Regions from separate parts of the Homo sapiens genome. Here region 2 is linked to region 1. The links come from fine-mapping of genetic effects on gene expression. A gene starts in region 1. The other region holds a variant in brackets. All regions are shown on one strand. Distances are between the middles of the regions. Region 1 holds the start of ACSL3 (acyl-CoA synthetase long chain family member 3). Region 2 has its middle 27 kb from the start of ACSL3-AS1.

The links. PIP is the estimated chance that this variant, and not a neighbour inherited with it, causes the effect. A credible set is the group of variants that fine-mapping cannot tell apart.
Region 2: its variant is the best candidate, but not a certain one, in a credible set for the expression of ACSL3 in whole blood (INTERVAL, PIP 0.74).

Annotation. Positions count from the first base shown.
Region 1 is chr2:222,859,526-222,862,436 of GRCh38, forward strand. It overlaps ACSL3 (acyl-CoA synthetase long chain family member 3), which reads left to right and starts at 1,511. Exons shown (of 17, transcript NM_004457.5): 1 at 1,511-1,733. RefSeq lists an enhancer at 1,226-1,520 and silencers at 1,237-1,566, 1,637-2,006.
Region 2 is chr2:222,944,930-222,947,840 of GRCh38, forward strand. It overlaps the pseudogene LOC100419511. Among named protein-coding and RNA genes, the nearest start is that of ACSL3-AS1, 27 kb to the left of the region's middle. The variant C/G (reference allele first, on the strand shown) is at 1,136.

The DNA of each region.
Region 1 (2,911 bases):
TTCTACTTAGCTTGTTAAACAGCAAACAAGATGAGAATTTAGAATTTTAATTCCCAGGACCATTTTCTTTTAAATATAGGTCCATATCCATAATATATATTCCATAATATAAAGATAATGAAGAAAGATATTGTTGGAATTCTTCTAGTCTGTTTTAGGCTTATGGATAGATAAAAAGGTGCAATATTAGTTTTCTTCTCTCGGAAAAAAACCAGTATTTTCCAGAGGATTTCATGGTTCTAGAAGTACTACTTCTAAAGCCTGCTTCTCTCTGCAGAGCTGCGAATGTCTTTTCAGATAAGAAATTCTGCATTCCATTTATCTTCAGGATGTATCCTTTGATAAGATTTCAACAGATTAATGAGCAACTGAACTGCCATATTTTGAAGTGGGAGAACAGTTTGCCTGAGTCAGGTATCCATCCCTTTAGGTTCTCGATTGGCCCTTGGCCCACGGTGAGTGAGCTCTCTTTGCTTGGTGCATCATCGCTCCACCTAGTTCAAGTTCTGGCGGCTTCCTGATTTTGATTCTCTTGGGAAATGAGGCCTGCTTTAGCCTGAGGCTGGCTCAGGAAGGCAACCTTTCACCTACTTAAGGAAAAGTTCACAGGCAAACTAAACAATATGTTGGGTTAAAAAAAGAGACCAATCCTACTAGTACTGGGTGAGTGAAAATCTTCTCTCTTACAGTACATGTAGTTCTACTACCTGCACTGGATGCTTTCTTTCTTATCCTTGTTTAGTGTCTAAAACGAGAAACAATGGCAAACTCCTTAAAATACAGAACCACTGTGGATTCCTAAGAACGTTCAAAAACAATAATTTGGAGTAAACTTTATTTTTTGAAAAGAAATAGCAAATTTGCATGGTGAGTGCATTTAGAGGAAAACGGGTTATATGCTAGGTCAAGTGAGGCCAAAACAAGAGAAATGATAATGGATAAGCTTTGAGTTTTTGAGGCTCTTCTTGCCCCAGGCAGTTCCAAAAGCCATTTTATTTGGCAGGATTTGACAGCAATTTCTGCAAGAACGGGATAACTAATCCAGTTAAAAACGAAAAAGAATATGCATACTATTTCATAATTTATATTGAAATTTATACATTACAGCAATAATTGTGCGACTGTAATTTTTTTTTTTTTTTTTTTGGTGGAGGGGTGTTTTTTCCTGGAGGGACGGAGCTCCTGCAGACCCTATTGGGCTAGCCGCTCCTCCCACGTCGCTGCCGCAGATCCCCGCTCCCCTCCCCCACCCGCGGTCCGTCCCTCCTGGTCGACCCCGTTCCCGCCCCCGCCCCGCGCAGACTGCAGCCAGGTCCGGTCCGCGGCGGCTCCGCGGAATGACCCGTAGTAACCTCGCCCCGCCCCGGGCCGCCAGCGCCGCGCTCCCCGGCCCGAATTCGATAGGCCCAGCCCCGCACGCGCCACCGCTCGCGGGCCAATGGGTGGCAGCCTCTCTGCATAGGCAACGAGTGCCGGCCGGGGGTGAGCGTCCCAGGCGGTTCCGCTCAACAGACGCTGCTGTGGCTGCGCCGGGCTGCGACACTGCAGTTGTCTACGCGGCCGGGGCCGGGACGAGGAGGCGTTGGACGGGGTCGCATACGTTCGTCCCCTCGCATTGCGGCCCCGACAGCTGCGCCAGGATCCCCGGGCGGCGGCGCGGGGCGTGAACGCTCTGGGGCTCAGCCAGGCCTGCGCGGGCCCGAGGCCGGAGGAACCCGGACTCCGGCGTAGCGGTGAGTGCGGCGCCGGTTGTGGGAGCGGCGGGAGCCGGTTGGCGGCGCGGCCTCCGCGTGCGGTTCGGCTGGGCCCGAGGGGCTCCCCAGCCTCGGGGCCTGGGACCCTGTCGTCGGCGCCGCACCTGACCGCTGGGTGTGCGCGCGGGCGGCCCGCGGCACCAGGAGCAGCGGCGAGCAGGGTGGGAGGCGGCCCGCTGGGGTCCGGGAAGCGGCTGACGTGGGGCCTCGGCCCTGAGCCCACGCGAGCCGGGAGCTGCAGCGCGAACGGCGTGGGGCGGCGCTGACCAGGCAGGGAGGATGCACTGCGTGCCTCCCGGCGCTGTGGGGCGGGGTGGGGAGGCCACCCCCTTGAATTAAGAGGGCTCTGCCGCGGCCCCAGCAGTGCGGTGTCCGTGGAAGGAGACTCAGCCCTGCGATTTCGGAAAACCCTTGTTTGGCGGGGCGGGAGGGGCTGTTGCTGCGTGGGGTGAGAAGAAACTAGGTGCGTGAGGTGGGTCGACCTTGGTGATTGGTTCTGGGCACTATCGTGGTGGTGGGACTGGGATTAAGACTGTCGTTTGGGGTTTGAGAGTTGCAGCTTTGCTTTTCCCCAAGTGCGTTTTAATCATATACTGTTGATAGGTTGGGTAACTCGGGGACTGCTTACTACCAGCAGTCCTGTGGGGTAGGTGTTATCAGGCTCGTTTCACAGATGAGGAGCCCGAGGCACAGGTTTTCAAATGGTTTTCGCAGGAAGTCTGATACTAGAAAGTGTGCTCTAAGCTGCTGTATAAAAGATCCCTCGAAAATGAAAAGGCTGGAGGAATGTCTTTAAAATTATATGGAAGCTAGAAAGGCAGTAGGCTTTGTGAACGAAATTATAGCTGAAAAGAATGACAAATAGCTGACATTTATTGAGCTTTTATTACATGCCACGCACTGTTTGGAGAGCTTTATGTACAGTGTCTTCACACTGTTAACAGTCCTCTGGGGTGGGGGTTATTCCCATTTTACAGCGGGAGAAACTGCAGATTGGACGACTTAGCTTGCCTCAGATCTCAGCTAGTAAGAAGCTGGGATTCAGACAGGCCTGTGTAAATCCAGAGCTCTGAAATCTAAGCACTATATTTTGCTGCCTCTCCTTGGTGGCTGGCTGAATAGTTTCCACAGTGGATTTTAGTCTGGGTGGCCAGGAG
Region 2 (2,911 bases), 85 kb after region 1:
CAGCATTTTAAATTCCAAAATATTCATACAGCATAAAATCTTGAATAGAGGTGGTAAATTGAAATTTGGCATCAAAATTAATGGGGTAGAATCTACAATGTGGCAGAAATATCTAAACTTTGTGCCAACATTTAATCCAATAATTGTGGGAGGAAGAGTTGTATCATGCTGTGTTTCAGAAACTAACCTCCCTCACCCACCCCATCTTTGACTGCCAGTCAATATTTGTGGGTATATGTAACTTTATCATAGCATACTTTTGTCTCTGTGTGTAATCCTGTAACAAAACCAGTTAAAGCTTTCTTTACATAAACATTTGGCATCTTTGTGTGTTTTGCATTAACTTAGACAGTTGTGCCTAATTTCTCCTCATTAACTTTGCTCAGGTTATTCTTTTAAACATTGGTAACAATATTTCTACCACACCAAATATGCAAATGATTTTAGGATGAGGCTGGTCTATAGTGTCATGGAATGGTTTTTATGGCATAACGTGAAACCGGTTATATGCAGATCTATAGTCTGATTTATGTAATAACATTATCTTCAATCTGATAAAATCTGCCTCTGATTTCCTCCTAATTAGTTGGTCCACATGCAAGCATATAGTCTGCAAGGGCCTGTCCATTTCAGAATCGCCTCTGTAAACCAGATGCCTTAACATGGTGCATGCATGGCCCCCAGAGGAGGTGTTCAGTAACTGGTTTTGAGTGAATTTGAAGTGTTAACGAAATTATTATAACAGTGCATACGTATCCTCTAATGTTACATGCCTATTTCTGGTTTGGATTTTCCAAAATGCTTTTCAGCAAACCCTTCCCCATTAGTGTCTTTATTTAGTGATTTTGAATTGTGTTCCCTTTGGTGGGATTCATTCAAAAGCAACTTCCTGCATTTGGTGATTTTTTTCTTAGATTCATTCTCATTTGTTTCTGAAGAAAGGTTGTTCTGTGTGGGTTTTTTGTTCTATAAAAAAGTGACTTTTCTGCGTGGATTACTTTTATAGAAACAAGGTTTGTCTCCCATATGAATGTTTTGATGCTGAAAGTTTTTCCATGTTAGTGCACTTACAGTTTTTCTCTCTGGAATGTACCCTCTCATGTTGAGAGAGCGAAGAGCTATAGCTACAGGTTTT[C/G]CCACACCGTCTGCCTTTGTAGGTTTCTTCCCAGTGTGAGTTCTTTCGTGTTTAATCCAGGCGAGCTACAAGGGAAAAATTCTCCACATTGACCACATTTGTGGAGTTTCTCCAGTATTAATTCTTTACTGGTTACTAAACGACGCTTTTTGCTTAAGATTTCCCCTCCTTCTTTATATTCGTAGGTTTTTGGTTTTTTAACTTACATGAACTCTCACATGTTGAACAAAGGAGGAGCAGTCTTTAGAGATTTTAGATACTTTATGTTCACAGGATTTCTCACCTGTATGATTTTTCTCATGTTGATTAAGGCAGTAGTTCTCAAACTTTCTGGTTTCAGGACCTCTTTATGTTCTGAAATAAATTATTGAGAACTCCAGAATGTTTGTTTATGTGGCTTATATCTATCAGTATTTCTTTGTAAAGGGTTTGTATTTTATCATGAAACATGTAGAAGTAAATCATTCACTTTGATTTTTCTTCATGACCATAATCATATTAAGAATACAAAAGGTATAAGAGAGTGGCACAGGATGAGGGTTTATTAGGAGGGCTGTATGTATGCCTTCCCCACCCCTGACTCCCAAGAAAAAAGATTATAGCTATCAGAAGAACATAGCTTTGCAAGATTTGTTCTGTGATAAAGGCAAAATTCCACATTTTTCCTCAAAATAGAAATGAAAAACAACTATGTTGTCCAAATAATTTGATGCCCCAACTTTCAAAATGTTTATGTATAGAAGCCTATAGCTCCAACGCGCTGCCTAGCCCTGCCACTTTGTCAACCCCATGGCCATATTCTGGGCCCTGTTATCGCTCAGAAGGCCCTTGTCTGGAATCTGGGAAAAGGAGGATGTTGAAGACTTAAAAGTCCTAATGCCTTTAATGGGGGCCTGGAAGGATGGGGCTTCAGGCCTGGCGGGAAAGGAATGGTGTTGTGTGGGAAGGTGCTCACATATAAAACATCCAGCTCTAACAACCCAGCAATGTGCTGTCCTCAAAGCTCCCAACCCCGCTGTGAGTCACCCCATCTGAGGACCTCCATGAGTGGCCAGGGCACAGTCCCTTATTCTGCTAGATGCTCTGCCTGCCCTGTATAATACCTCTCTGCTCAGCCTTAGCACTAACGCCATCCTCACTCCAGTCCTCTCTTGGTTTGAATGTTTTGGATGTCTTGAGAGCATTGGGGCAAGAACTCCGAGAATTTTTTTTCTGTTTTCTTTTTTTTTTTTTTGAGACAGTGTCTCACTCTGTGGCCGAGACTGGAGTACAGTGGTACGATCTCAGCTCACTACAACCTCCATCTCCCGGTTCAAGTGATTCTCCTGCCTCAGCCTCCTGAGTAGCTGGGATTACAGGCACCTGCCACCACACCCAGCTAATGTTATATTTTTAGTAGAGACGGGATTTCACCATGTTAGCTAGGCTGTTCTCGAACTCCGGACCTCAGGTGATCCACCCGCCTTGGCCTCCCAAAGTGCTGGGATTACAGGCGTGAGCCACCGCTCCCGGCCTTAGAATTCTTTTAAACGTTTCCACAAATGTAAGAAAAGATGGCTTTTTGGTAGCCATGGTCAAAAATAGCCACCCAAATCTGTTTTTACCCTGTTCAGCACATCAGCAGTTCACCTCATGTAGGAAAGTGAGATGCACCAGAGGCTTAAAAAAGTTCCTATGGTTTGCCCACTAATTCCACATCTAGGAATCTGACCTTAGAAAATACTCAAGAGACGCGGGTTGAGATTTCTTCAGGAAGACCTTCATTGTGAAGTTGTT